3 separate regions of the Homo sapiens genome follow, and all the other regions are linked to region 1. The links come from fine-mapping of genetic effects on gene expression. A gene starts in region 1. Each other region holds a variant in brackets. All regions are shown on one strand. Distances are from middle to middle.

Region 1 (8,175 bases):
TTTAAACTTTGTTGTATGTTCAACATTTTTCAAAATAAAGGGTTTTTCAAAATAGTAGATTTTAGGAAGCATTGTCCAGAGAAACAGAACCAATAGGATCTTTTTGCTTGTACTTTTGTTTTTTGTGTTTTTTTGTTTGTTTGTTTTGAGATGGAGTCTTGGTCTAGTCGCACAGGCTGGAGTGCAATAGTGCGATCTCAGCTCATTGCAACCTCCACCTCCCAGGTTCAAGCAATTCCCCTGCCTCAGCGTCCTGAGTATCTGGGATTACAGATGCCCACCACCAACGCCCGGCTAATTTTTTTTGTATTTTTAGTAGAGACGGGGTTACTCTTGGTCAGCCTGGTCTCGAATTCCTGACCTCAGGTGATCTACCGGCCTCGGCCTCCCAAAGTGCTGGGATTACAGGCGTGAGCCACCGCGCCTGGCTGCTTGTACTTTTAATGGCAAAAACTGCAATTACTTCTGCACCAACCTGCTATATAAAGAGATGTAGTATAAGGACTTGGCTCATGTGATTATGGAGTCTGGCAAGTCCCTAGATCTGCAGGGTGAGTTCTGGAGACCGAGGAGACTTGATGGTTTTGTTCCAGCCTGATTCAGAAGGTCTGAGAACCAGGAGAGCCGATGGGGTAGTTCTCCTCTGAAGGCTGTCAGGCTCAAGCCCTGTGAAGAATAATGTTTCAGTTCAACTCCAAAGGCAGAAAAGACCTTTATGCCTGTCAGAAGGGAATCTGGCAGGAAGAACTCCCTCGGAGTCAGCCTTTCTGTTCAACGCCTGCAACTGACAGGATGAGGCCCGCCCACATTAGAGAGGGCAACCTGCTTTCCTCAGTCTCCTGATTTAAATGTCAATCTTGTCTAAAAACAGCCTGACAAAAAGACCCAGAATAATGTTGAACCAAACACCTGGGCATCCCATGGCCCAGTCAAAATTAATCATCACAGGAGGGTTAGGGTAGAATCCAGGAGACCAGTGGAAAGGTCCCCATAATAATCTAGGGGTAGCGGTGGCTCATGCCTATAATCCCAGCACTTTGGGAGATGGAGGCGGGCAGACCGCTTGAGGTCAGGAGTTCGAGACCAGCCTGGCCAACATGGTGAAACCCCATCTCTACTAAAAATATAAAAATTAGCCAGGCATGGTGGTGTACACCTGTAATCTCAGCTACTTGGGAGGCTGAGGGAAGAGAATTGCTTGAACCTCGGAGGCAGAGGTTGCAGTGAGCCAAGATAGTACCACCACACTCCAGCCTGGGCAACAGAGCAAGACTCCATCTCAAATGCAACAGCAATGCCAAATAATAATAATAAGCTAGGTCTGAGATGATGGTGGCTTGAACCAGGGTGATAGGCAATGGAGGGAGTGAGAAATGGTCCTATTCAAGGGGGTTAGGAGGAGTTATATCTTTCGTTTTGGAAATTTTCAAATAGATACAAAAGGAGAGAAACCAATGATTTCCATCTCAGCCTTAACTATGCATTTCAGCACATGGACAATCTTGTTTACCCCCAAAAGCCCCACCAAGCTCCACACCCTCCGCTTGATTGTTTTGATTCAGATCTTACTATTTCTGAATTCTGGATATTTGTTTAAGGTAAAGTAATCCCAGCACTTTGGGAGGCCAAGACGGGTGGATCACCTGAGGTTAGGAGTTCAAGACCAGCCTGACCAACATGGAGAAACCCCACCTCTACTAAAAATACAAAATTAGCCAGGCATGGTGGTGCATGCCTGTAATCCCAGCTACTCGGGAGGCTGAGGCAGGAGAATTGCTTGAACCCAGGAGGTGGAGGTTGCAGTGAGCCCAGATCGTGCCACTGCACTCCAGCCTGGACAACAAGAGTGAAACTCTGTCTCAGAAAAAAAAAACCAAAAACACAAAAATTAGCTGGGTGTGGTGGTGTGCATCTGTAGTCCCAGCTACTCAGGAGGCTGAGGTGGGAGAATCACCACTGCACTCCAGCCTGGGTGACAGACTGAGACTCTGTCTCAAAACAAACAAACAAAAACAAAGAATGACTCCAGGGTTTTGGCCTGGTGGCTCTCACCCTAGCTTGATGCCAAGACAGAAACATCTGTTCTAGGCCTGGCCTAGACCTCTTCTCTCTAGAGGCCCAGATGGACCAGAGGTCCCTAATTCAGCCAACCTCTTTCTCCCTGAAGACATGCTCTGCTCCAGGTTCCCAGCTCCTTGCTGGGACTGACCTCCTGGTACTTCCTTGACCTTTTTGAGCAGAGTGAACCTTCATAAACTATTCTCCTTTTTCTCCCATCTCCCCAAGACATTCCTACTCCTGGGCTCCCAAGATAATCAATCCCTGTCATTCTAGCCAGGATTAAAGAAGGAGATGTTCAGGGCCGGGTGCAGTGGCTCACGCCTCTAATCCCAGCACTTTGGGAGGTGGAGGCGAGAGGATCATGAGGCGGTCGAGACCATCCTGGCCAACATGGTGACACCCCGTCTCTACTAAAATACAAAAATTAGCTGGGCTTGGTGGTGGGTGTCTGTAATCCCAGCTACTCAGGAGGCTGAGACAGGAGAATTGCTTGAACACAGGAGGCGGAGGTTGCAGTGAGCCAAGATCGCACCACTGAACTCAAGCCTGGGCGACAGAGCAAGACTTCGTCTCAAAAAAAAAAAAAAAAAAAAAAAAAGCAGGCCAAGGGCTTATACTTCAAAGGTGAAGGATAAATGAGGACCTGGATCATATATCTAGAGGGATGAGGTATCAGGGGTGGGGGGATTCCGTTAAACTGACTAGCAGGATTTTTGTGAAAACAGGGTTAGACAGGTTGATGACAGGGATGAAGGAACAGCCCACAAGGCCTAGTCAAAAAAAGATGGCTCAGGCCGGGCGCGGTGGCTCATGCCTGTAGTCCCAGCACTTTGGGAGGCCGAGGCGGGCGGATCACGAGGTCAGGAGATCGAGGCCATCCCGGCTAAAACGGTGAAACCCCGTCTCTACTAAAAATACAAAAAATTAGCCGGGCGTAGTGGCGGGCGCCTGTAGTCCCAGCTACTTGGGAGGCTGAGGCAGGAGAATGGCGTGAACCCGGGAGGCGGAGCTTGCAGTGAGCCGAGATCCCGCCACTGCACTCCAGCCTGGGCGACAGAGCGAAACTCCGTCTCAAAAAAAAAAAAAAAAAAAAAAAGATGGCTCAGAAGAGCCTACCTAAAAGTTGGTTAAGGGGAGAATGTCTGCATCCCTCCTAGGCCCAGGCTGGAGGCTTTCTAAACATATTCGTATTTGTCAGGATCTCCAAAAGTAGGCCCCAGAATGGGACCCAACTGACCCAGGCATAGTGGGACCAGCACAGATTGGACAGTCTTTCCCCTCTGGGCTTCTTGGCTCCTATCGGGCAACTCAAAGTGAGAATTTGGGGTCAGCAGTCCTAGTGCTGCCAGTGACTCACTGAATAACCTCCAGCAAGGCACTTAACCTCTCTGAGCCTCCCTATGCTTATTTAAATTTGAGAATGGTAATTCAGTCTGTCCACAAGGCAGGCTTGTTGAGAGAATGGAATAAAGCACTGTTACTTGAGGAGACGCTTTGTCAGCCTGAGTGAGCAGCTGTACATGTTGTTATTTAAAGAAAAAAATTCTGCTTTCAACCGTGTTCCAAAAAAAACTACTGCAAAGGCTAGGTGTAGTGGTTCATGCCTATAGTACCAACACTTTAGGAGGCTGAGGCAGGAAGATCACTTACGCCCAGGAGTTTGAGACCAGCCTGGTCAACATGGTGAAACCTTGTCTCTACTAAAAATACAAAAATTAGTTGGGCGTGGTGGTGGGTGCCTGTAATCCCAGCTACTTGAGAGGCTGAGGCAGGAGAATCCATTGAACCCGGGAGGCGGAGGTTGCGGTAGGGAGAGACCGCGCCACTGCATTCCAGCCTGGGCGACAGAGCGAGACTCCGTCTCAAAAAACAAAAAACAAACAAGCAAACAAAAAAAAGGCAACGATTGCACAGATTTTCATCAGGTTAACAGAGTGTTTGTGATGGTTTGACTTGAAATATAAGCTATGTTGCTTACATGAAGTTCCCTTTAAAGGGGCTCCAGGGCTCACCTCAAAGGATAAGGAGAGATCATTTAAAATAGCCGACAAGGGTACAACGAATGAGTCTCCCATGATCCGGAGACCCGCTCTGCTCACTGAGATTACTAACCATGGTCAGAGAAAACAAACAATTGCAGATACGAGACATAATTTTTTTTGAGACGGAGTCTCGCTCTGTCGCCCAGGCTGGAGTGCAGTGGCGCGATCACGGCTCACTGCAAGCTCCGCCTCCGAGGTTCATGCCATTCTCCTGGCTCAGCCCGGAGTAGCTGGGACTACGGGCGCCCACCACCACGCCCGGCTAATTTTTTGTATATTTAGTAGAGACGGGGTTTCACCGTGTTAGCCAGGATGGTCTCGATCTCCTGACCTCGTGATCCGCCCGCCTCGGCCTCCCAAAGTGCTGGGATTACAGGCGTGAGCCACCGCGCCCGGCCCGAGTCATAATGTTTTTAATCGTAGAGGCTGATGGTCAATTGAGTTCTTCCCACGTGGACAATTCCGTGAAGCCTGCTCTGACGTTAGGAGCAGCAGCGATTTCTCTTTAAAGCTGGTTAATGATTCCCTCCCGTAACTCCGGGTGGCCAGCTTGTACTTAAATAATTGTAAAAATGCGGACTGAGGTGGCATGCCTTTTTGGCCCTTTGCACACGGCTGGCCTATGTCGTTTATTAATTGGGAGGCAGTGTCATTGTGTAAATCCCCTTATTCCTAGCGGGGTCACGGTCTGAGTTTGAACGCGCCCCTCCGCAAGCATCTGTCACGGGCCAGATTAAAGACTACATTTCCCAAAGGCCCTCGCGGATCCCACCCTTCTCCCTCCCTTTCCGGTTTTACACATAGGCCCCGCCCCCAACGCGCGTGTCGGCCAATAGCGGCCCCACCTCTCGCGCCCGGCAAAAATAGGACGCGGGCGGGAACGTTTCGGGGTCCGCGGGGGCGGGGCCTGTGGCCAGGGGTTGGTCTTTGGAATCGGAGAGGCAGATTCGCTGCTCCGCAGCACGGCCGGAGCTGGTCGGGTCAAGAGTCGGGATTTGTGGGGAGAGGTTTTCCACTGGTCAAGAGAAGGCTTTAAGAAAGACGGTATTAATCTCCCGTTGCGGCTCCCGCCTGGTCCCATCTTCTGCCCGCTCCTCCAGGAAATGAATCTGCTGCCGAATATTGAGAGTCCAGTGACTCGGCAGGAGAAGATGGCGACCGTGTGGGATGAGGCCGAGGTGGGCACCGGGCGAGCTGGCGGTCCGGGAACCGGGGCCCGCAGGGAGACGCCATTGACAAGAGGGAAGGAGGTGGCTGGGGGTCAAGGTCTGGCCCGATCCCGGGGACGGGGTTGTTTGGGATGTGGGCAGGGGTCCTGACTCCATCCTGGTTTTATGGGCGTGGAAACTGAGGCTGTGAGTGGGTTCGGAGAACGAGGGATGCTTGTCCTGAGTAAAAGTAAATATATAAATAAACAAATAATTTTTTACAGCAAGATGGAATTGGGGAGGAGGTGCTCAAGATGTCCACGGAGGAGATCATCCAGCGCACACGGCTGCTGGACAGTGAGATCAAGGTGGGCGCACAGCTCCTGTGCGGGCGATGGAGCCCCCACAGGACAGGCCCCGGCGATCCGAGTCGCCTCTCGTACTTCCTAATCGGGCACCCTGGGGGAGACATGGGGCTCGGGCTTCCCCCTCATATCAGGAAGAGAGGAAAGAAAACTAAGCCTTAAAAGGGACAAGAAGACAGGTAGGGGGTGGTGGGAGGCCTGGGCTGAGATGAGAAGTTATCAGATTGCCTTTCCCAGTGAGAACTGGGAATAATCCTCTCAAGAATCCTTCTTTTAGTAAAATGCCTATTTTACAGATGAGGAGACAGGCCCAGAGAGGTTTGTACTGCGATAAAGCACCCAGTTCTTACTATGAGGCAGAACCTAAAACCTATGTTTGCCTCTCTCGGAGGCCTGCTTTTATTCCAATACTACCACTATTTCACCAGGAGGTTTCCAAACTGGCCTCCTCTTTTGACTTCTGCAGGATGTGGACACAGTCAGACTCTGCCTTCAGAGAGCCTCAGAGCTGGATGAATGGATGCGGGAGGGTCCCCTGGGCACCCTGGACCTCACTAGTTACAGGGCTCTAGCATAAGCTGTGCCAGGGTTTATATTTGCTTCTCCTCCCCTCCTGATCTCAGATCATGAAGAGTGAAGTGTTGAGAGTCACCCATGAGCTCCAAGCCATGAAGGACAAGATAAAAGAGAACAGTGAGAAAATCAAAGTGAACAAGACCCTGCCGTACCTTGTCTCCAACGTCATCGAGGTGTGTGTGTATGTGGAGGGGAAGAGAGGGAGTCAGCAGGGAATGGGGACAGCCTGGGGTGGGGCCACTAGGGAAAGAGTGGGTGGAGGTATTGAGGCCAAACTGCATGTCAGAGCTACACCTCCTGGGGCACTTTCATGGGGAAGACGGGGCCTGCAAAGTCCTGGGAGGTCTCACGTGTCTCCTTTTCTGTTGGTTATGTCTCCTCCGGGGTAGATGAGCCCTGTGCAGAGGAGCAGCACCTACACAGAGATCAATCCCTGGGCTTAGCAGGGGCACCCACGTTTGGTGGGCTCAGGGCTATTGGAGGAGGGAGGTAAGGATGGCCAGCCCTGCAGGTATTAGGAACTGTCTTAGGAAGCACTGGGCCTTGGGGAGTTCAAGGAGCTGAGTATTTTTTCCTTCCCAGCTCCTGGATGTTGATCCTAATGACCAAGAGGAGGATGGTGCCAATATTGACCTGGACTCCCAGAGGAAGGGCAAGTGTGCTGTGATCAAAACCTCTACACGACAGGTGAGCGTGGCTCAGCAATGAGAGACTGGAGGAGGGTGAGGAGCGGATGTGGGACAGGACTAGGGAGCCTTCCCTGAGGACACTAACTGAGACTGCCCCTGTAACTTGTCCACAGACGTACTTCCTTCCTGTGATTGGGTTGGTGGATGCTGAAAAGCTAAAGCCAGGAGACCTGGTGGTGAGTGGGGCCTGAGCCCAGGCAGTGCTTTTCTGGTGACTAGCTGAGCCCCTGTACCCGCCCCAGGTCACTGTTGGCTCTGAATCTTGGCAGAACAGCTCCGAGAGTCTGGGATTCTGTCTACTTGCTGTTTGATTCTTGTATTGCCCAGTCCTGTGTCTTTCCCTCTGCAGACACCTGTCACCCAGTCAGTTGGGTAGCCCTTGAGCTGGGCCAAATCTGAAGGCCCTGTGCTGTGTCCTTAGGGTGTGAACAAAGACTCCTATCTGATCCTGGAGACGCTGCCCACAGAGTATGACTCGCGGGTGAAGGCCATGGAGGTAGACGAGAGGCCCACGGAGCAATACAGTGACATTGGGGGTTTGGACAAGCAGATCCAGGAGGTGAGGGAGGCACGGCAGCTGCCAGCAGCCTTGTCAGCCTTTTAGTTTCTCCACGCCATTGATGCAGCTCATCTCCCTAATGTGTCTTTCATCCTCATAGCAACCTAGGGAGGAAGGGAGGGGTGCCATGTGACAGGTGAGGAGACTGAAGCCCAGAGAGTTTAAATGCCTTGCCCAGGATCACAGAGAGACCAGAGCCAGGACTGGAGCCCAGGCTCCTGGTTCTTGGCCCAGTGTCCTTTTTTTTTTTTTTTCCGAGATGGAGTTTTGCTTTTACTGCCCATGCTGGAGTGCAATGGCACGATCTCGGCTCACCGCAACCTCTGCCTCCCGGGTTCAAGCAATTCTGCCTCAGCCTCTCGAGTAGCTGGGATTACAGGCATGCGACACCAAGCCTGGCTAATTTTAGCGGAGTATTTTTAGTAGAGACGGGGTTTCTCCATGTTGGTCAGGCTGGTCTCGAACTCCCAACCTCAGGTGATCCGCGTGCCTTGGCCTCCCAAAGTGCTGGGATTACAGGCATGAGCCACTGCTCCCAGCCCCTGGCCCGGTGTCTTTTCTGCCATATACTCCCGTTCCTGGAGAGTCCATAGCCAGCCTGGGTGGGGATGAGTGTTCTGTGTCCTCTTTTTTTTTTTTTTGTGACGGAGTCTTGCTCTGCCGCTCAGGCTGGCTGGTGTGCAGTGGCGTGATCTTGGCTCACTACGAGCTCCGCGTCCCGGGTTCATGCCATTC
Region 2 (8,175 bases), 42 kb after region 1:
GCAGGGACAAGGGTGTGGGAGGCTGGCCAGGATTTGGGATTCAGAGGAGGTCTAGCTGCCCCTGGCCACTGGGGCTGGGGCAGAGTGGGACAAGAGACTGAGGCAGAGCTGGGGAGCGGTGGGGGGAAACTAGAGGGAAGGCGGTCTTGGGTGGCAGCCTGGAGGAGGCAAGCCCTTGAAAGAGAGAGATCTGAGGGTGTGGAAGTGGGTGGGCTTGTGCGCAAAAGCTGGGGAGACTGAGAAAGGTTCCAGGAATGCTGAGCGGTGTCCTCTGGCTGGAGGTGGAGGTGGGGCTGGCCACTTGGGCTGGGGACGGGCAGAAAGGCTGGCCGGACTCCGGGCGTTGGAGGTTCCCGCACAGGCCTCGGAGGTTTGGGCTTCAGCTTGAGGACAGGCAAGAGCTCAGGAAGACTTTTAGGTGGGGAAATATCCATGAGAGAACCTCGAGATAGGGACAGCCACGGAGGCACAGGCCTGAGGGGCCCTGAGAACCACAATCACCTCCTGCCCTGCTCCCGGCTGTGTGCCCTTGGCCGTGCCCCTTACCTCCGGGAACTGCACTTCCGTCATCTGCAGAATGGCACTGACAAGGCCTGCCTCGTACGGTTACGTGAGGGAGGGGTGAGTTAGTGCCCAGCACGGGCACCCTCCAGTGCTTGCCTGTCACCACCCACAAGCACTGGAGCACTGCCATGGTGCAGAGCTGGGGTCTAGGTCTCAGGTGGATCTGGGCGAAAGCCTCACCTACACCCCGGATTGACCAAGCCACGCTGTGCCGACTCACGGCCACTTCTGAGCCTCAGTCTCCTCATGTGTACCACGGCACCAGCTTCAGGTTTGAATAAGAGAGGACACACCCTGCGACACACTCCATGTTTCCTGGAGTCAAAGCCAAATTCCATACCATGGCCTGACCTGACTGGCCCTGTCTGAGCTTCTGCCACTGGCTGTGCCCCCATAGGCCTCCTTGCCATCTCTGGCTCACGCTCCTGCCTGGGGCATTGGCACTGACTAGTCCCTCTGCCCGGAATTCTTCTCCCAGACATCTGCTTGGCTCGCTCCCTCACTTGCTTCCAGGGTTTGCCGGATGCACCTCTCTTGGTGAAGCCTGCCCTGCCTGCTCTCGTGAATGCTGCAAACTGTCCCCGCCCACTCCATCCCCTACCGCAAGCCCCTTATCCAGCTGCATGCCCTTGTTCCTATGGCGAGTGTCACCTTCCAACATGCAATGAACACTCGCTATCATGAGTTCATCGTGGGTCTTGCCCTGCTGAAGAGCAGGCCCATGAGGGCGGGGATGAAGGGCCCTGCCTGTTTGGGCTGCCTGGCATGCAGAGGCCCCGAGTCAATCATTGTTGAAGGCCTTAATGCACTGAAGAGCCAGCCCAGTGCTGTCAACAAAACTTGGGGAGCTCGGAGGGGCCCAGTTGACCCTGGCTGGGGCCCAGGGAGCCTCTCCCAGTGTCTCAACCATGAGAGGAAGTTGCAAGACTGCCATTTCTGTCCACAGGCTCAGCTCTTTTTGGTCAACTTTCCCAGCTCTTGGTCTGAGGCCTGTGTGTTCTCACATGCCTTGTCACACCCTATGGGGACAGGTTGCTAGGAAAGTGGGTGGGGGGACATTTCCTCATTTTCTAGCTCGTTTGGGCCAAGGCTGAGAGATCTATGAGGTCAGGGGTCGTGCTCCCCTCTGTGGACTCAGCTTTGAGGACACCCCCTCAAGTTTCCTGTTGCCCGCCTGCTTTGTGATTGCATTAGCACCCGGCCTGCCCCTATCATCAACCCAGCCAGCAGGGGCAAAGGGCCACACTACCCTAGGCCTGCCCAGCCTCCCTGTCACTCTGCAAGGCCCAGCCCCTGCAGGGTCTCCCACTTGTCTAGTAGGCTGGGAAGCTGCACTGTCTAGCAGGACTGGTAGGATAATGAATAGGTATAACTTTTATTTTTATTATTATTTATTTATTTATTTTTGAGATGGAGTTTCACTCTTGTCACCCAGGTTGGAGTGTAGTGGTGCCATCTTGGCTCACTGCAACCTCTGCCTCCCAGGTTCAAGTGATTCTCCTGCCTCAGCCTCCTGAGTAGCTGGGACTACAGGTGTGCACCACCACACCCAGCTAAATTTTGTATTTTTAGTGGAGACGGGGTTTCACCATGTTGGCCAGGCTGGTCTCAAACTCCTGACCTCAGGAGATCCACTCGCCTCTGGGAGTGCTGGGATTACAGGCGTGAGCTATCATGCCTGGCTGATACAACTTTTGTTAAGGGCAATGTGATAATATCTGTTTCCAGTCTTATTTTTTTTTTTAAGACAGGGTCTTGTTCTGTCACCCAGGCTGCAGTGCAGTGGCGTGATCATGGTTCACTGCACCCTCATCCTCCAGGGCTCAACCAATCCTCCCATTTCAGCCTCCTGAGTAGCTGGCACCACAGGCACACACCACCACCACCACCACCCCACCAAGCTAATTTTGAAAATTTTTTTAGAGATGGGGTCTCCCTATGTTGCCCAGGCTGGTCTCAAACTCCTGGGTTCAAGTGATTCTCCCACTTTGGCCTCTCAAAGTGTTGGGATTACAGGCGTGAGCCACTGCACCCGCCCTGTCTGTCTATCCATCATCTGTCTCAAAATTAACAATGCACAGAGGGCATAGTGGCTCACACGTGTAATCTCAGCACTTTGGGAGGCCAAGGCAGGAGGATGGCTGGAGGGCAGGAGTTCGAGACCACCCTGGGCAGCAGAGGGAGACTCTATCTCTAAAAAATAAATACAGGCCAGGAGTGGTGGCTCATGCCTGTAATCCCAGCACTTTGGGAGGCCAAGGTGGGTGGATCGCTTGAGCCCAGGGGTTTGAGACCCAGCCTTGGCAACATGGCAAAACTCCTGTCTCTACTAAAAATACAAAAAACATTAGCTGGGCATGGTGGCGTGCACCCGTAATCCCAGCTACTCAGGAGGCTGAGGCAGGAGAATTGCTTGAACCCAGAAGGTGGAGGCTGCAGTGAGCCAAGATTGCTCCACTGCACTCCAGCCTGGGTGACAGGGCAAGACTCCATCTCAATAAAATAAAATAAAATAAAATACATAAATACATACATAAAAATTAAAAAATGAAAAATGCACTGTCCTTTGACCTGGTAATTCAACTTTTGGGAATCTCTCCTAGACATCCTCCCTCCTGCATATATGTAATTTAGCATATGTTATTGATTGCTGTATTATTTGTAATAGCAAAAGACTCGAAACAAATGTCCATCAATAAGTGGTTAAAGCTACTTGGGGGGCTGAGGTGGGAGGATCGCCTGAGCCCAGGAGGTCGAGGCTGCAGTGAGCCATGATAGAACCACTACACTCCAGCTGTGTGTGCAGAATGAGACCCTGTCTCAAAAATACATATATACTGATGAGAGACTGGTTAAATAACAATGGAATGCTGGGTGCGGTGGCTCACGCCTGTATTCCCAGCACTTTGGGAGGCCAAGGCAGGGGGATCACTGGAGATCAGGAGTTTGAGACCAGCCTGGCCAACATGGTGAAACCCTGTCTCTACCAAAAATACAAAAATTAGCTGGGAGTGGTTGCCCATGTCTGTAATCCCAGCTACTGGAGAGGCTGAGGCAGGATAATTGCTTGAACCCAGGAAGCGGAGGTTGCAGTGAGCCGAGATCATGCCACTGCACTCCAGCCTGGGTGACAAAGCGAGACTCCATCTCAAAAAGATAAGTAAATAAATAACACTGGAATACTATCCAGCAATGAAAATGGACCATAGCGACACAGAATAACATGGTGGGGAAAAGAAGAAAGACCCAAAAGGATATTTACACTATGATTTTTTTAATATAAAGATTAAAACCTGTTAAAATAAAAACTGAACTATAAGGGAAAGCAAGAGAAAAAGCAAGAGGCCTGTGCGTTGGCTCATGCCTGTAATTCCAGAACTTTGGGAGGCTGAGGCGGGCAAATAATGAGGTCAGGAGTTTGAGACCAGCCTGGCCAACATGGTGAAACCCTGTCTCTACTAAAGATACAAACAATTAGCCGGGTGTGGTGGCACACGGCTGTAATCCCAGCTACACGGGAGGGTGAGGCAGGAGAATCACTTCAATCTGGGAGGCAGAGGTTGCAGTGAGCCAAGATCATGCCATCGCACTCCAGCCTGGGCGACAGGGTGAGACTCCGTCGGAAAAAAAATAAATAAATAAAAAATAAAAGAAAAGCAAGTAGAAAATTACTGAAAAAGTTAGGACAGTGTTATTTCTAGAGGGAAGTAGGGGACATTTGGGGATTCTTCTGGGGTTCTGGCAATGTTTTTTTGTTGTTTTGTTTTGTTTTTTTTTTTGAGATGGAGTCTTGCCCTGTCACCCAGGCTGGAGTGCAGTGGCGCGATCTCGGCTCACTGCAATCTCTTCCTCCCAGGTTCACGTCATTCTCCTGCCTCAGCCTCCCAAGTAGCTGGGACTACAGGCACCCGCCACCACGCCCGGCTAATTTTTTTTTGTATTTTTAGTACAGATGGGGTTTCACCGTGTTAGCCAGGATGGTCTCGATCGCCTGACCTCGTGATCTGCCCACCTCAGCCTCCCAAAGTGCTGGGATTACAGGCGTGAGCCACCGCGCCCGGCCTTTCTGGCAACTTTTTTATTTCTTTACCTGGATGGTGGTTACATAGATGTCAGCTTTATAATTATCTTTTTTTTTTTTTTTTGGAGACGGAGTCTTGCTCTGTCGCCCAGGCTGGAGTGCAGTGGCGC[G/A]ATCTCGGCTCACTGCAAGCTCTGCCTCCCGGGTTCACACCATTCTCCTACCTTAGCCTCCCGAGTAGTTGGGACTACAGACCGTGCCACCATGCCTGGCTAATTTTTTTTTTTGTATTTTTAGTAGAGACGGGGTTTCACCGTGTTAGCCAGGATGGTCTCAATCTCCTGACTTGGTGATCTGCCTGCCTCGGCCTCCCAAAGTGATGGCATTACAGGCATGAGCCACTGCACCCGGCTGCTTTATAATTATTCTTTAAACTGCACATAAATATTGTATTTACTCTTCTAAATGAACGATGTCTCTCATGACTTAAAAATATCCTGGTAAATCCAAATAGTGGAATACTATACGGCCATTAAAAAGACACTACAGTCAACACTAATTTATAGTGTATTTAAAAATAACTAAAAGAATATAATTGGAATGTTGGTAACACAAGGAAATGAAAAATGCTTGAGGTGGTGGATACCCCATTTACTGATGTGATTATTACACAATTTATGCCTGTATCAAAATATCTCATGTACCCCATAAATAAACACACCTACTATGTACCCACAAAAACTATAAATGGAAAAAACTCAGAAGGACAAGACAGTGCTACATGGGTGTGACATGTATATTGGGGAAAAAAAACAAGGGAACTACAATATGTTTAATGTGCCCCCCTCTGTGTAAAAAATTTTTTTCTTTCCTTTTTTTTTTTTGAGACGGAGTCTCGCTCTAACGCCCAGGCTGGAGTGCAGTGGCACGATCTCGGCTCACTGCAAGCTCCGCCTCCCGGGTTCACACCATTCTCCTGCCTCAGCCTCCCGAGTAGCTGGGACTACAGGCGCCCGCCACCACGCCCGGCTAATTTTTTGTATTTTTTTTTTAGTAGAGATGGGGTTTCACCGTGTTAGCCAGGATGGTCTCAATCTCCTGACCTCGTGATCCACCCCCCTTGGCCTCCCAAAATGCTGGGATTACAGGCGTGAGCCACCACGCCCGGCCCCCTCTGTGTAAAATTTTTAAAAATATATCTGCTACACGCTGTGTAGATGATTTCTAGACCAAAACACAAGATCAGGTAACAAGTGGGCTAGTCTGTGGAAGGGGAACTGGGCAGTTGTTTACCTTTTTTGTACCTTTTGAATTTTGTACCATGTGCACATGTTATCTATTCAAAAAATAAAATAATTAAAAATGATGTTTTTGTTTTTCAGTCCCTAGAGCGTCCAAGATTTTTGGTTTCAAACCAATTTCCTGCTGACCAGAATGAAATGGAGCCACATTCCAGCACGATGCACCTGCTGACCTCCTGCAAGTCAGGGACCTTCTCTGCCCCTCTTTTGCTCTGCTGCAGGAGGGAGAAGCTGGGAATGTGTTCCTCTGGGGTCCCATCACCTCCAGCCAGCCACTGTCCCTGTCTCCCCAAAACCTCCTCGTTGTCCCTCCTCTGTCCTCCTCCTCCTCCATCTGCCTTCGCCCTGCTCTCCTCTTTTTCGCCTGAGGTTCGTGCTGCCTCCTCACCTCTTGTCCTGTTTCTCCCTTCTCTCTGCTCCCTCCTTTGATCTTGCTATTTTGCTTCTCTTTCCCTTCCTCTCTTCTCCTCCCTCCCCTTCCTCCCTGCTCCCTGCCTCAGCTTCTCAGTCTCTCTCCGTTCTTCCTCTAGCTTCCTTCCCTCCCCAGAAGACCCAGCCCTTCCTAGAGCCCCAGAAGCCAGGGTTCATGCCCCAGCTCTCTACCCACACATGCTGTGCAACCCTGGGCCAGTCACTGGTCTCTTGGGCCTCAGTTCAACAGATGGCTGTCTTGGTGATGTGAGATCATAGGGTGGAAGCACCCAGAATGGTGCCAGGCACTCAAAAATTTTTTTCTTTTCCTTTTTAAGGAACTACTAACCGTGAGGTTATGGATTACCAAACCGTTCCTGTTCTTGGAATCTGGGTCCTACTATTCCCAAGAATTTGAATTACCACGGGTCCCTGGGGATGTAAGGGGATGAGGCTTCTGATGTACTTTGGGAGGGGGAGGAGTGGAAAGAGGAGTTGGGAGGACACTCTAGCATTGCCCAGAGGGCAGAGGACATTCTGCCTATTTCCAGAGGTTATTGACCCTGGATCTCTTTTATGGAGTTCCTCACCCAGGCCCCTTGAGCTTGGCCATACTTGAGGCAATGGGATATCTTCCTTCTCCTGGAGCCCCTTGAATCTTAGGCCTCGGGAACACACAGTCTACTGTGTTTCTTGGCTGCACCCACGGAGGACAGCCCCCATACTCCTTGCTTACAACCAGCAAAGACTCCACAGCCATCCCTGCACACGACTCAGGCTCCTTGGCTTGGCACTCAAGGCTCTTTGCTTTCCTGTCCTGCTTTGCTTCCAGCTGCAAAGATGGTGGCTTCCTGTTTTCCTCTTCGTTTCCTTTGCTTAAGTTGATTCTCAGCCAGACATGCTTTCCCCCTGCACGCTTCCCTAAGCCATCCTATCTGGGACCCTGACCCAATCAATGGTTCCCTAATGCACCTTTGAGACCAAGTGTACCTGGCACCTCCTCTCTTGCCCCACTATCTGCTCACATGACCCTCTGCAGGCCTGTAAGCTGCTGGAGGCTCCGAGTATGCCTCATTCATGTCTATCCCCCTTACTAGGCCCAGACCATGGAAGACACTCAATAAAAAGTAAGTGATTAAATGACAACCTCTACGGAAAAGAGTATGGAGATTTCTCAAAGAACTAAAAACAGAACTACCTTTTGGCCAGATGCAGTGGCTCACACCTATAATCCCAACATTTGGGAAGGCTGAGGCAGGTGGATTGCTTGAGCCCAGGAGTTCAAGATCAGCCTGGGCAACATGGTGAAACCCTATCTCTACAAAAAATACAGAAAATTAGATGAGACTACAGGTGGCACACATCCATAGTACCAGCTACTCCAGAGGCTGAGGCGGGAGGATCGCTTGAGCCCAGGAGGTCCAGGCTACAGTGGGCCAAGATCACGCCATTGCACTCCAGCCTCAGTGATAAAGTGGCATTCTGTCTCAAAAGAAAAAGAACTGGCCAAGCATGGTGGCTCACGTCTGTAATCCCAGCACTTTGGGAGGCCGAGGCAGGTGGATCACATGAGATCAGGAGTTTGAGACTAGCCTGGCCAACAATGATGAAACCCCATCTCTACTAAAAATACAATAATTAGCTGGGCGTGGTGGCGGGCGCCTGTAATCCCAGCTACTCAGGAGGCTGAGGCAGGAGAATCATTTGAACCCGGGAGGCAAAGTGAGCCAAGATTGTGCCACTGCACTCCAGCCTGGGCAACAAGAGCGAAACTCAGTCTCAAAAGAAAAAGAAAAAGAGAGAAAAGAAGAAAGGAAAAGAAATATCATTTGATCCAGCAATCTCACTGAGTATCTAACCAAAGGAAAATAAATCACTATA
Region 3 (8,175 bases), 69 kb after region 1:
TTGTAAGCCCCTCCCCCTGCACACTGAATACTTTTTTGTTAAGAGACAGGGTCTCAGCTGGGCGCAGTGGCTCAAGCCTGTAATCCCAGCACTTTGGGAGGCTGAGGTGGGCAGATCACGAGGTCAGGAGATCAAGACCAGCCTGGCCAATATAGTGAAACCCCATCTCTACTAAAAATACAAAAATTAGCTGGGCATGGTGGTACATGCCTGTATTACCAGCTACTTGGGAGGCTGAGGCAGGAGAATCACTTGAACCCGGGAGGTGGAGGTTGCAGTGAGCCGATATCGTGCCACTGCACTCCAGCTTGGGCAAGAGTGAGACTTCATCTCAGAGAAAAAAAAAAAAAAAAAAAAAGAGACAGGGTCTCACTCTGTCACCCAGGCTGGAGGCAGTGATGTAATCATAGCTCACTGCAGCCTCAAACTCCTGGGTTCAAACGATCTTTTCGTATCAGCCTCCCAAGTAGCTGGGACTAGAAGTGTGTGCCACCATGTCTGGCAAATTTTTAAACATTTTTTGTAGAGATAGGGTCTCACTATGTTGCCCAGGCCGGTCTCAAACTCCTGGGCTGAAGTGATCCTCCCTCTCCAGCCTCCTGGGTAGCTGGGATTATAGGTGTAACCACACTCAGTGGGAATCTAGGCTCTTTAGAATAAACTATTATTATTATTAATAATAATGATAATGATGAAGTTAATGTTTATCAAGGTCTGTCTTTGTGCCAAGTTCTAGTCTAAGCACTTTGCAAGCAATAGGTCATTTGCTTCTCAAAACAAGCCTGTGAGATGGGTGTAATTGTTAGCCCCATTTAACAGATGAGGACACAGGCTTGGAGAAATAGAATGACCTGCCCATTGTCACACAGTGGTAAATGGCAGAGCCAGAACTTGAGCCCAGCTCTGCCTTTCTCTCCTCTCTGCCATGTGGCTTCCTAAAGGTGGGAGTCTGGGTTGTCTGGACTGTGAGGCCAAATAATTATACATGTAGACAAGGCCTCAGTAACTACCCAGGTCTAAAAGCATTTCTGACTTTTAGAGTGGGGAATGAGAGGCTCCGGGAGAAAAAAATGTCTTGTCCATGGTCATACTGCAAAGCAGGTTTAGAAAGCGAGTACTCCGAGATCCAGTCCAGAACCAAAAATCATGATTATCTATTAGGGATGTGTGATTAGGTGTTTGTGTGAGAGAGAAAGAGAGATGCAGGCAGACATGTGTACACCTTTGTACACACGTACACACGCACGCATGGCTGGTGGTGGACTTGTCCCAGAGACACTGCCTGGACCTGGAGTCTCGTAGGCGCCCTCTTTGGCCCACATGAGACAGCCGATCTTGTCACTTTATTACCACGCTTCATTTTGGACCCCGAATTGCGCCCAGGAAGTCCCGCAGATGTGTGGCAGTTTTTGTTCCTGGAAAAGGTGTTCATGCTGAAGATCTTCCCCAGTTCCAAGACAGGGCTTTTGGTGGCATGGGGTTATTCCCCGGACTTCAGTCTCCTCCACCACAGACTCAAGGAACCCACAGGGGGTTTTCCAGGAAAGTCTCAGGTCCCAGGAACCTCACGGGAACACAGGTGCCACTGCTTAAGGTCATGGCTTTGAAGAGGAAGGGCCACCGTGTGCCTGGACAAGTTCTAGTGTGTGAGGAATGTCAGCCCTGTGACTCTGCTGTCACACCTTGGCCATGTGACAAGGCTGTGTGAGTGTGTGTGTGTGAGACAGAGAGAGAGACTGTGGGCAGCCAGGGAGCTCAGGAACCCGTGGGAGGTTTTTTTCTTTTCTTTTTTCTTTTTTTTTCTTTTTGAGACGGAGTCTCGCTCCGTCGCCCAGGCTGGAGTGCAGTGGCGCAATCTCGGCTCACTGCAGCCTCCGCCTCCTGGGTTCACACCATTCTCCTGCCTCAGCCTCCTGAGTAGCTGGGACTACAGGCACCCGCCACCACGCCCAGCTAATTTTTTTGTATTTTACTAGAGACGGGGTTTCACTGTGTTAGCCAGGATGGTCTTGATCTCCTGACCTCGTTATCCACCCACCTCGGCCTCCCAAAGTGCTGGGATTACAGGCGTGAGCCACTGCGCCCGGCCGAGTTTTTTTTTTTTTGAGGCAGAGTCTCACTCTGTCGCCAGGCTGGAGTGCAGTGGCGCAATCTCGGCTCACTGCTACCTCCACCTCTCGGGTTCAAGCGATTCTCCTGCCTCAGCCTCCTGAGTAGCTGGGATTACGGCACCTACCACCACGCCCAGCTAATATTTTGTATTTTAGTAGAGATGGGATTTCACCACGTTGGCCAGGATGGTCTCAATCTCCTGACCTCATGATCCGCCCGCCTCCGCCTCCCAAAATGCTGGGTTTACAGGCGTGAGCCACCGCGCGCGGCCCTGGCTGGGAGGTTTTAACAGGATAGGAGGGGAATCAACTTTCCCTGAGGGCCGGCTCTGGTGCGAGGTGTTTTACAAATGTGTACTCATTCGTATCTTCCCAATAACTGTGATCCCCATTTTACAGGCAACTCAACTGAGGTTAGAGAGGCCACATATGTGCCTGAGGTCACACAGCAAGTAAATGGCAGAGCCAGGATTAGACGCTCGGTCTGTGTGACTGCACAGGAATCAGGATGGAATTGCTGAGAACACGAGCTTTGCTTCAGCCCTGAGTCCTGGCTGTGACCCGGATGCTTTTGACCTTGGGCATGCTATGTAGCCGCTCGAAGCCTCAGTGTCCTCATCTATAAAATGCAGGCCTAGAGTAACCATGCAGGTGGCGAGGGTTAAACGAGATGGTTAGGCCCCATATGGCCTGGCAGTATTATTTAATGTTACTATAACCTTTTCCTGCCCTGCCCAACCCTGAGCTCACCCCATACTGCCTGGCTGTCCCCCACAGACCATTACTGGGACTTCCACCCCCACCACGTGCACAGCGAGTTCGAGAGCTTCGCCGAGAACAACTTCACGGAGCTCCAGAGCGTGCAGCCCCCGCAGCTGCAGCAGCTCTACCGCCACATGGAGCTGGAGCAGATGCACGTCCTCGATACCCCCATGGTGCCACCCCATCCCAGTCTTGGCCACCAGGTGCATGCCACCGCCTGCCCCGTCCCCCAGGAGACTGCCAGGCCTGTGGTGGGGCCCGGGAGCTTCACAGGAAGCTGACACAGGCTCTTACCCAACTCAGCTTCCTGCCCCACAGTGCCAACGGCGGCTGGAGCTCCAACGGCTGCCGCCTGACCCCCCAAGTGACCTCATGACCCCACACCCCTTATCTCATCTCACCCCGAGTATGGACAGACCCCAGATAATTCTCGCACCCTCACCAAGCCTCCCCATCCCAACGCCTTGTTGTGGGCCCTCCTGGGCCTCACTGTCTGCCACCCCCATTCACTAGCCCTCATGGATCCCACACCAAGTCACTGAACACCTCTACTGACCCTGCCTCTCCCCAGTGACCCTCCCTACTGACCCTAACCCGGATCAGTGACCTCTGCTGACCTCTACCACCCCTACTGACCTCCAGGGTCCCTCCACTCACTCATCATCCCACCTATGAAACCCCCTTCCAGACCCAACGCACCGGTCCCTAGCATGCCCTCTTCTGACCCCAGCCTAATGCGGGTCCACACAGCACCGCTGCAGGGAGGAGAACAAGGCACCACTTCCCCGGTGCCCACAGTCCTAAACCAGGAGGCCCAGCTGGGAGGGCTGGGTGGGCTGGATGTCAGCACCCCTCGCCCCACAGCCTGCACCCTATGTGCAGCACCTCAACTGGCCCCCCTTTTCCCTGGTCTTCTTCCTCCAGTCTCCTGTGCCTGCCATTGTCCCCTGCCCTCTGCACTCCTTCTCTCCCCAGCTGACCTCCCTCCCAGCCCCCCTGAGCTGTAAGCTGGC[C/T]CTTCCTGACTCTGATCTCCTTCCCCCACCGTCCAGGTCTCCTACCTGCCCCGGATGTGCCTCCAGTACCCATCCCTGTCCCCAGCCCAGCCCAGCTCAGATGAGGAGGAGGGCGAGCGGCAGAGCCCCCCACTGGAGGTGTCTGACGGCGAGGCGGATGGCCTGGAGCCCGGGCCTGGGCTCCTGCCTGGGGAGACAGGTGGGGCACCTGGCCCTCCACCCTGGCCCCGACCCTGGCCGTGTCTGTGCCCTGCCCCCACCCAGCCAGGCCAACTGACCCAGCAGCCACGCCACCGAGTCGCGTGTGTGTGTGTGTGCATGTTTGCCAGTGTGTGTGTTTTGTGGGGCTGTCTGTGGCTGTCTCTGTGTGTGTGTATCTGCTGTGTAGTGCATACGGGCATCTCCATGAAGTGTGCCAGGTGTGTGTGTCTCTCTGTGCCATGAGTGTGTGTACATCTGGGTGTGTGTGAGCAAGTGTGCAGAGGGTGCGTGTGCACAGGTACGGGCAGGTGCATGTGTGCGAGTGGCTGTGTGAGTGGGTGTGTGAGAAGGTGAATGTGAGAGCTGGTGTGGCTGAGAGTGGGTGTGGCCATGTTTGTGTGTCTGTCAACACATGAATGTATTTCAGTGCGTGTGAGCAGCTGTGCACGTATGATGTCAGTGGGTGTCAGCAGTGTGTGGGTGTGCCTGTGTGAGCAGGGATGTGAGCATGGTATATGTGAGTGGCTGTAAGCAGGCATGTGTGAGTGATATGTGTGAGTGGGGGTGTGACAGCAGGTGTGTGAGCAAGTGTATATGTGTGAATGTGTATGTAAGCAGGGATGTGTGTGATATAAGTGTGTGTGAATGGGCATAGGTGTGTGTCAGTGGATGTGTGAGTGGGTGTGAACATGTTTGAGGGTGTATGTAAGCAGGTGTGTGTGAGCAGGAAGGTGTGAGCTGGGGTGTGTGAGCATGTATGTGTATATGTGAGCAGGTCTGTGCATGTATGTGAGTGGATATGTGTTTTAACATGTGTAAGCATGTGTGTGTTCCCATGTGTGAGCAGGTGTGTGTGGGGGGTGAGGACGTGCTTAAGCACCTGCGTGTGTGAGCAGGTGTGCATGTGTGTGAACAGGTATGTGTATGTGTGAAAGCAGGTGTGTGAATGAGTGTGTGAGCATGAATGGGTGTGAGTGGGCCGGGCGTGGTGGCTCACGCCTGTATCCCAGCACTTTGGGAGGCTGAGGCAGGCGGATCACCTGAGGTCAGGTGTTCGAGACCAGCCTGGCCAACATGGCGAAACCCCGTCTCCACTAAAAATACAAAAATTAGTCAGGCGTGGTGGTGAACGCCTGTAATCCCAGCTACTTGGAAGGCTGAGACAGGAGAATTGCTTGAACCCGGGAGGTGGAGGTTGCAGTGAGCCGAGATCGTGCCATTGCACTCCAGCCTGGGCAACAAGAGCAACTCCATCTCAAAAACAAGAGAATGGGTGTGATGTGTGAGTGTGAGAGCAGGTGTGTGTGAGCATGCATGAGTGTGAGCTGCTGTGAGTGGATGTGAGAGCAGAATGTGTGTGAGCATTTGAGTGTGCAAGTAGGTGTCTGAGTGGTTGTGTGTGAACAGGCGTGTAAGCATGCAAGTGGATATGCATGAGCAGAATGTATGTGCATGCGTGAGCAGGTGTGAGGTGCAAGTGTAAGTGGTGTGAAATATGAGTGAGCAGGTGTCAATGAGGTGTGAAAGAGCTGGTGTGAGCGTGTGAGTGATAAGTGAGCAGCTGTGAGGTGTGAGCATGTATGTGAGCAGGTATGTGTGATGTGTGAGCATATGTGTGAGCATGTGTGTGTGCAGATATGTGTGGGCAGGTGTGTGTGAGTGGGTGTGAGATGTGAGCATGTGTGTGAGGTATGAGGTGTGAGCATGTGTGAGGTGTGAGCATGTGAGTGGGTGTGAATGTGTGAGGTGTTAGCATGTGTGAAGTGTTAGCATGTGTGTGAGCATGAGTTTGTAAGCATAAGTGTGTGTGAGACTTGGTGTGAGGTGTGTGAGGAAGTGTGTGTATGGATAGGTGAGCATGTGTGTGAGCAGACGTGAGCATGTGTGAGTGGGTGTGTGCGTGAGTGAATGGTGTGAGGTGTGTGAGCACAAGTGTGTGAGCAGGGGCGTGTGTGTGTAGCTGAGTAATGTGAGATGTGTGTGAGCAGGTGTGTGCGTGTGGGGCTGAGTAACGTGAGATGTGTGTAAGCAGGTGTGTGCGTGCAAGTGTGTGTGAGGTGTGGGTAGGTGCGATCATATGTGAGTGGATATGTGTGAGTGAATGGTGTGGTGTAAGCATGTGTGTGTGAGCAGGGGCATGTGTGTGCAAGGGTGAGCAATGTAAGGTGTGAGGGTGAGCAGTGTAAGATGTGTAAGCAGGTGTGTTTGTGCAAGCATGTGTAAGCAAGTATAAGCAGGTGTGATTATGAGACCTGGTGTGAGGTGTATGAGCAGGTGTGTGAACATGAGTGTGTGAACCTGGTGTGAGGTGTGTGTGAGCAGGTGTGAGTGGGCATATGAGTGTGAGAAGGTGCATTGGGTGTGACCGTGTGTGGGGGCAGTAAGTGGGTCTGAGTGTGTGTGCATGTGTGTGAGTGGGTGCATTGGGTGGGTGTGAGTGTGCATGTGAGTGGGTGTGAATGAGGTGTGAGCATGAGTGGGTGTGACCAGGTGTGTGTGAGTGGGTTGTGAATGTGTAAGCAGATGCAGTGTGGGTTTGAACATGTGGGTGGGTGCAAGCATGTGAGTGGGTGTGTCGTGTGGGTGCCAGTGTGTGGGGGCATGTTAGTGAATGAGTGTGTGAGCATGTGTGTGAGTGTGAGCTGGTGCATTGTGTGGGTGTGTGAGAAAGTGACAGTGTGTGAGGGCAGATGTGGGTGTGAATGTGCAAGTGGGTGGGTGTGGGTGCAATCTGGCGTTTGGGTGCATTGCACAAGCATGTGTGTGAGCATGTGGGTGTGAGTCTGTGAGCACGTGCATTGTGTGTGCATGTGTGTGACAGCATGTGTGTGATCAGATACATTGTACGTGTGAGCGTGTGTGGGTGTGAGCATGAGTGAGTGGTTGCATTGTGTTTAAGCATGAGTGTGAGTGGGTGTGAGAAGGTGCGTTGTGTGAGCACGTGTGTGAGTGGGTGTGGGCGTGATGTGTGAGCATGTGTAAGGAGGTGTGGGTGCGTTATGTGGATGTGAGCATGTGTGTGTACTTGGTGCACTGTGTGGGTGCGAGTGTGTGCGCGTGGGGGGGGTGAGTGCGTGGGTGTGAGTGGGTGTGTGTGAACGCCTGTGTGTGCGCAAGCATGTGTGTGTGTGTGAGTGTGGGTGCGTTGTGTATGCACGCCCGGCGCGGGCTGGGGCAGCCGTTCCCCTGCCCTTCCCGGCCACCCCGTCCCCGGGCCCCTGTGCGTACGCAAGGCGGTGGGGGCGGCTCCCATGTGGGCCCCGGGCCCCCTCCCACCGGGCCCTCCCCCCCGCAGGCAGCAAGAAGAAGATCCGCCTGTACCAGTTCCTGTTGGACCTGCTCCGCAGCGGCGACATGAAGGACAGCATCTGGTGGGTGGACAAGGACAAGGGCACCTTCCAGTTCTCGTCCAAGCACAAGGAGGCGCTGGCGCACCGCTGGGGCATCCAGAAGGGCAACCGCAAGAAGATGACCTACCAGAAGATGGCGCGCGCGCTGCGCAACTACGGCAAGACGGGCGAGGTCAAGAAGGTGAAGAAGAAGCTCACCTACCAGTTCAGCGGCGAAGTGCTGGGCCGCGGGGGCCTGGCCGAGCGGCGCCACCCGCCCCACTGAGCCCGCAGCCCCCGCCGGGCCCCGCCAGGCCTCCCCGCTGGCCATAGCATTAAGCCCTCGCCCGGCCCGGACACAGGGAGGACGCTCCCGGGGCCCAGAGGCAGGACTGTGGCGGGCCGGGCCTCGCCTCACCCGCCCCCTCCCCCCACTCCAGGCCCCCTCCACATCCCGCTTCGCCTCCCTCCAGGACTCCACCCCGGCTCCCGGACGCCAGCTGGGCGTCAGACCCCACCGGGGCAACCTTGCAGAGGACGACCCGGGGTACTGCCTTGGGAGTCTCAAGTCCGTATGTAAATCAGATCTCCCCTCTCACCCCTCCCACCCATTAACCTCCTCCCAAAAAACAAGTAAAGTTATTCTCAATCCATCCTCTTGCAGCACAGAGTCTCTTTTAAAATTTGTTGTGTATCTCTTTTGGCCCCTGTGTGCTGCGACGTCTCTTTTTGTCATTTGTCCATCGGGTGTTTACCGAG

Direction of the effects. Positions count from the first base shown, and alleles are read on the strand shown. Sizes are in standard deviations (SD) of each study's normalised expression. Not every link is listed here.
For the expression in cerebellum of the gene that starts at base 5,047 in region 1, C is the low allele of the variant in region 3 and T is the other (small effect, 0.34 SD a copy in GTEx).

Evidence for each region.
Region 2: its variant is fine-mapped to the expression of PSMC3 in lung (TOPMed, PIP 0.99).
Region 3: its variant is fine-mapped to the expression of PSMC3 in cerebellum (GTEx, PIP 0.97).

What each region holds. Positions count from the first base shown.
Region 1 is chr11:47,423,311-47,431,485 of GRCh38, reverse strand. PSMC3 (proteasome 26S subunit, ATPase 3) reads left to right here and starts at 5,047. Exons shown (of 12, transcript NM_002804.5): 1 at 5,047-5,281; 2 at 5,536-5,619; 3 at 6,240-6,365; 4 at 6,775-6,879; 5 at 6,995-7,057; 6 at 7,303-7,440. The coding sequence starts at 5,207. RefSeq lists silencers at 4,809-4,938, 5,209-5,420 and an enhancer at 5,039-5,238.
Region 2 is chr11:47,381,622-47,389,796 of GRCh38, reverse strand. SLC39A13-AS1 (SLC39A13 antisense RNA 1) reads left to right here. Exons shown (of 4, transcript NR_182308.1): 4 at 5,965-8,175. Among named protein-coding and RNA genes, the nearest start is that of SPI1, 7.2 kb to the right of the region's middle. The variant G/A (reference allele first, on the strand shown) is at 4,756.
Region 3 is chr11:47,354,754-47,362,928 of GRCh38, reverse strand. SPI1 (Spi-1 proto-oncogene) reads left to right here. Exons shown (of 5, transcript NM_003120.3): 3 at 2,889-3,076; 4 at 3,923-4,085; 5 at 7,383-8,069. The coding sequence ends at 7,702. Among named protein-coding and RNA genes, the nearest start is that of MYBPC3, 6.1 kb to the right of the region's middle. The variant C/T (reference allele first, on the strand shown) is at 3,887.